Regions from separate parts of the Homo sapiens genome. Here region 1 is linked to region 2. Evidence: fine-mapped expression QTL. A gene starts in region 2. The other region holds a variant in brackets. All regions are shown on one strand. Distances are between the middles of the regions.

Region 1 (2,904 bases), 44 kb before region 2:
ACCTCTGCCTCACGGGATGGAGCTGTGTAATGCCCGGAACAGTGCCTGCTGCATAGAGGGGTTGCTGCCAGCTGCCTCTCCCTCCTTGTCTCTTACCTGCCTGCTGCCTGGGACAGGATGAAGCGGGGCCCTTGTGTTGCCCCAACCCTGGCTGTTGGCTAAGAGCCCACGTGATCTGCCTGTGAGAGGAGTTCCTTCCGGAAGAACCAGGGCAGCTTCTGCCCCTAGAGGGCCAATGCCCTAGCTGAGTGCAGTCCCCCGGCCCCAGCCTGGTCCAGCTTTGGGAAGAGGGTGCCCAGTTGTGCAATCCAGGCCGGGGCAGCCGTGTCCTGATCTTGGTATTCAGGGCTGAGCCTGGAGGGGGCTTGTGATGCCTGACTCTGTCTCTCTCTCTGGCCCCATGCCTTGGTAGCTGTGAGGCGTCACTGCTTTGGGTGACCTGATCTGGCTGTGATGGATGAGCACGGGGGAAATAGTGGAAGACTCGGAATTAGAAGACGTGAGTGGGCTTTGGCCCCAGCCTCCCTACCCCACTCCCTGTCCTGGGCTGCCTGTGACCAACCTTGTTTCTGCAGGCACACTGGATAGCCCTGCTGGAGCTCAGTGTCCCTAATCCCCTCCAGATACTGGTGGCCTAGGGGAGGTCATCAAAGACCGGTGGGACATCGACCTCAGCCCGTTTCCACGCTTTTTTTTGTTTTGTTTTGTTTTTTTGAGACCGAGTTTCACTCTTGTTGCCCAGGCTGGAGTGCAATGGCGTGATCTTGGCTCACCGCAACCTCCGCCTCCCGGGTTCAAGCGATTCTCCTGCCTCAGCCTCCCAAGTAGCTGGGATTACAGGCGTGTGCCACCAGGCTTGACTAATTTTCTATTTTTAGTAGAGACAAGGTTTCTCCATGTTGGTCAGGCTGGTCTCAAACTCCCGACTTCAGGTGGTCTGCCTGCCTCGGCCTCCCAAAGTGCTGGGATTACAGGAGTGAGCCACCGTGCCAGGCCTTCTCCAGGCTCTTGGCACCTTAGCCAGAAACAATTTAAGGACAAGTGCAAAAGTCATGAACGTAGGCAGATTTCCTGCAGAGTAAAGGGACTCACTGAAGAAGAGGAACGTGGGGGTCCTCAAGAGAGTGTCTCATGCCCTACAAGGTGTGGGGCTGACCTTTATGGGCTTCTTCAACTAAAGAGGGGTATATTCATGAAGATTCCAGGAAAAGGTAAAGATTTCTCAAGACCGTGGTGCCACAATTTACACCCAAATACAGGTGTTCCTGGAGCCGTCTTGGCACTGGTGGGTGTACGGTTTCATATGTTACTGATTGTACAGTGAGATCCTAGGTGAAACCTACATCAAATACAGCGCCATGTTGCTTCTGGTTGGTCGCAGCCAGCTTGGTCCTCATCCTATTTTTCAGGGACTTATTGGCCCTTGGCACATGCAGCTATTTCAAGTTTCCTTCTTCTGGTCATGTGAAACTGCTGCCTGGGATTTTCTGTTGTCTTGCTAGCACTCTATTAATCTCACATTCTCGCCTCTTTTCTGTGCCACCCCCTGCTGGTCCGGCTGGTTTTCACTAGAGTGCAATACAAAGTCTCAGTCAAGAGGGCCTCCTGAAGGTTGCTGAGGGCAGGGGTGGAGCTAGTAGCCGGAGGACCTGCCAGTCATGGGGATTCCTCAGGGGCACAGAGGAGGGAGGAGGGGCCTGTGGCCCTAGCAGGGGAGCAGCCTCTCCTCTGCCTGGAA[A/T]TCCCATGCCTCAGTTTTCCCCGCTTGCCTCTGAGCTCACGCAACCCTGGGAAGGCTTGGGAGACTCACCTTTACTCAGATGGTTGTTTACCTGTCTCGTGCCCAGCTTGACCCTGGACTTTAAATAGTGAGGACAAAGAACGAGGAGGGTGGGGGGATGCACTCCTTCCACGGGGCCCTGTGGCTTCCAAGCCTCAACCTCCTCTGGCCTCTGTCTGTGGAGCCTCCTTCAAACCCATGGAAAGAAAAGTACCTGCCAGGGGCTGTGGTTCTTCTAGGATCTTCTATCGATGTTCTGTGAGGTCCCCAGGGAGCCATGAAGCTGGGGCTGGCTCCCAGGGCAATGGGACTGCAGTGTCCTTGTTCTTTCTTGTTCTATGGATCCATGCTCTGCTCCACCCCTGCCCCTTCACTCTGCCCACACGCATCACTCCAGACTGGCCTTGTGGTCAGAGCCTGGAGTGCATGGGCTGCTGGAGGCCTGTGGGTTGCACTGGGCCAGGACCCCTGGCACCTTCAAGACTGGCCTGGAGCCAGCAGGTAGGTGACCTTTCCAGGGCCTGCCTATCCCATCTTTCTCCTCCAATCCCTCCCCTCTCTTGCCTGGGTCAATTAGAGAAAGCTTGTCTTTTGGAGTTCAGGGGCAGGTCAGGAGCCCAGTGACAGCTCAAAAAAAAAAACCCACAAAAACAAACCCACCATTGGGCCCTTTCCCCTTTCATTCTTCTGTTTTCTACACACCAAACCCAGTCGTGGCTTTGGAGATCACTTTAAGCTTGTCTCCAGCTGGCAAACTAAGGAGGGTAATAGAGAAGCTCCCCCACCCCCAACCCTACCCCTTCCTTCCGGAAGCAAATCTAAGTCCAGCCCCGGCTCCAGATCCCTCCCACACTGACCTAAGAAACCCTCAGCACAGACAACACCCCTGCATTCCCCACACAACACCCACACTCAGCCACTGCGGGCGAGGAGGGCACAAGGCCAGGTTCCCAAGAGCTCAGGTGAGTGACACACCGGAATGGCCCAGGACGCCCTCACCCTGCTCAGCTTGTGGCTCCAACATTCCAGAAGCCGAGGCCTCTGCTATCCCTGCCCTCTCCCCATGGATATCCCATTTCAGACAACCCCGGCCGGCCTGAATCCCCCTCCCTTCCTTTTTTTTTTTT
Region 2 (2,904 bases):
GCAGATGGCAAATCTCGGGACTTCTCAGCCTCTATAATAGTGTCACCCAATCCATCACAATAAATCTCTTTTAAAATAGCTATACAGTTGACCCTCAAACAATGCAGGTTTTAATTGTGCAGGTCCACTTATATGTGGATTTTCTTCCACCTCTAGAACTCTTTTTTGAGACAGGGTCTTGCTCTGTCACCCAGGCTAGAGTGCAGTGGCACGATCTTGGCTCACTGCAGCATCCACCTCCTGGGTTTAAGTGATTATTGTGCCTCAGCCTCCCAAGTAGCTGGGATTACAGGCGTGCACCACCACGCCCGGCTAATTTTTTAATTTTTTTTTTTTTTTTTAGAAGAGACTGGATTTCACCACGTTGCTCGGGCTGGTCTCAAACCCCTGAGCTCAGGCAGTCTGCCCACCTCGGCCTCCCAAAGTGCTAGGATTACACGCATGAGCCACCGCGCCTGGCCAGTATTTACATTTAAAATGTGAAACTGGGATTGCGGTGGCTCATGCCTGTAATTCCAGCATTTGGGGAGGCTTTGGTTAGGAGGACTGCTTAAGCCCAAGAGTTTGAGGCTGCAGTGAGCTGTAATAACACCACTGTTCTCCAGTCTGAGCAACAGAGAACGTGTCTCTAATAAAAACAAAAATGTGAGATGATGCCTAGGTTAGAATCAGCAGAGGAGAAGCCAGAGAGAGCAGAGGCAAAGGAAGAGAACGTTCAGCAAGCCAAATGAAAACAGTGTTTCAAGGAGGGGCAGTGATCCACAGCATCAAATGCTGAACAGGACTGAGACCTAACTTAACAATGCATTTGGCCACCTAGAGATCACTGGTGGCTTTGACAAGAAGCCTTTTTAGTGGAGTGGTGGAGACCAAAGCCTGACTAGAGGCTCAAGGGTTCAAGACTTGGAGGAGAAAAGGCATTAGTGAGGGTAGACTAAGGCCTTTGGCTGCAAACCGGAGCCGAGGAGGAGGTAACTGGAGGATAGCGAGGGTGAAGGAGGCTGTTTTGTTGTTCTTAAGACGGGCATTTTTTGGCCGGGCGCGGGGGCTCACGCCTATACTCCCCACACTTTGGGAGGCCGAGGCGGGAGGTTGAGCCTCCTGGGCAAACGACGAGCTGTTAGTGTATCTTGTTAAGAACTATATATATATACAAAATTTTTGTGCAAATCATAAAATAAGTGCTGGAGTTCGGGGCCCATCCTCTGTCCGCATCTTCGTGACCCGGGTCCGAGTACCCCACCTGGAAGCTGCGTCCGTGCCGAGCCCAGCGTGTCGCTGTTTCCCACCCTCGCCGGGGATGGAAGCACGCAAGCGCAGACCTCGAGCGGCCGGGCGCAGGGCCCGCCCTCCCCGAGCCCCGGCCCCGCCCTCCTCTCCCGCCCCCACCCCCACGAGCCCCGCCCCCCTCCCGCCCAGAGCGCGTGCGCACCGCCCCTAGAGCGCCGCCTCAGGGAGGTCGGGAGCCGCGGCGCGGAGGGAGGACTCAGCCCTTCGCTCCCGCGTTTCGCCGGAGGTCTCAGGCCACGGCCCGTCGCCACCTACCGAGTCCGGGACAAAACAAGCTCGTCGGGCTGGAAACTGCGACGAGGGGAGCAGGCGCGTTCCTCGAACCCTTTTTCGGAGTCTGCGGATGATCACAGACCTGCGTTCGAAGATTGGCGGCACGTCGAGAACCGCACACGCTTTTTTTTCCTTTTATGAGCGTAGTCGCGCGCGGAGGACCTTGCACGCATGCGTAGTCGTTCCTCTGTGACGTGACCCGCTGCCCCGTGGGAAATGTAGTTTTCACTTGGCACACCGCTCCGGCTCTTGGCGGAACCCTAATTTAACCAACCAAAGTGCTTGTGCGTTTTCAGCGTTTTCTCCCATTTCCCCAGACTCTATTTAAAACAAAATGCAATAAATAAATAAATAAATAAAACTTGAAAGCGAACAGATTGCTGCTTGCTGGAGGTGGGTGGGCGCAGGGGTAATATGAAAACTGTACTTTCTGCTCAATTTTGTTGTGAACCTAAAAATGCCCTAAAAAATAAAAGTCTGTTGTTAAAAAATTAATTAAAAACAGGCCGGGCGCGGTGGCTCACGCCTGTAATCCCAACACTGGGACGCTAAGGCGGGCGGATCACCTGAGTTCAGGAGTTTGAAACCAACCCGGCCAACATGGTGAAACCCCGTCTCTACTAAAAAATACAAAAATCAGCCGGGCGTGGTGGCGGGTGCCTGTAATCCCAGGTACTGGGGAGGCTGAGGCTGGAGAATCGCTTGAATTCAGGAGGCGGAGGTTGTAGTGACTGGAGATTGTACCATTGCACTCCAGCCTGGGTGACAAGAGGGAAACTCCATCTCAAAAAAACAAACAAACAAAAAACAAGCAGATCTTTAGACCCAGAAATCGCACTTCTAGGGAATCTTCTCAGGAAAGTACTAAGGATATGGACGTGCAATGGACATGTAGCCTCAATGGTATTTTATCGAAAGCCATCCTGGTATCTTAAAGTTTCTTACATAACCTACAAATGTCTGTAATTATTTGTTGATTATTTGATAAACTTGCAAGTCCTATGAGATTGGGATCATCTTGTGTTCACCTGTGTATTCCTAGTACCTAGCACAGTGCCTGGCCATCACATGTTTCTTTTTTTTTCTCTTTGAGACAGGGTCTCGCTCTGTTGTCCAGGTTGGAGTGCAGTGGTGCCATCAGGGCTCCTGAGTAGCTAGGACTACAAGCACACACCAGCACATTCTGCTGATTTTTAAATTTTTTTTGGTAGAGATGGGGGTCTTGCTATGTTGCATAGGCTGGTCTTGAGTTCCTGGGCTCAAGCGATCCTCCTGCCTCAGCCTCCCAAAGTGCTGGGATTACAGGCATGAGCCACCAACCTCAGCCCCGTCAGTATTTTT

Evidence for each region. PIP is the estimated chance that this variant, and not a neighbour inherited with it, causes the effect. A credible set is the group of variants that fine-mapping cannot tell apart.
Region 1: its variant is the best candidate, but not a certain one, in a credible set for the expression of SGF29 in skeletal muscle (GTEx, PIP 0.54).

The regions. Positions count from the first base shown.
Region 1 is chr16:28,596,832-28,599,735 of GRCh38, reverse strand. SULT1A2 (sulfotransferase family 1A member 2) reads left to right here and starts at 2,686. Exons shown (of 8, transcript NM_001054.4): 1 at 2,686-2,739. RefSeq lists enhancers at 1-285, 286-820, 2,454-2,748. The variant A/T (reference allele first, on the strand shown) is at 1,739.
Region 2 is chr16:28,552,739-28,555,642 of GRCh38, reverse strand. It overlaps SGF29 (SAGA complex associated factor 29), which reads right to left and starts at 1,723. Exons shown (of 10, transcript NM_138414.3): 1 at 1,546-1,723. RefSeq lists a silencer at 1,295-1,414 and an enhancer at 1,435-1,754.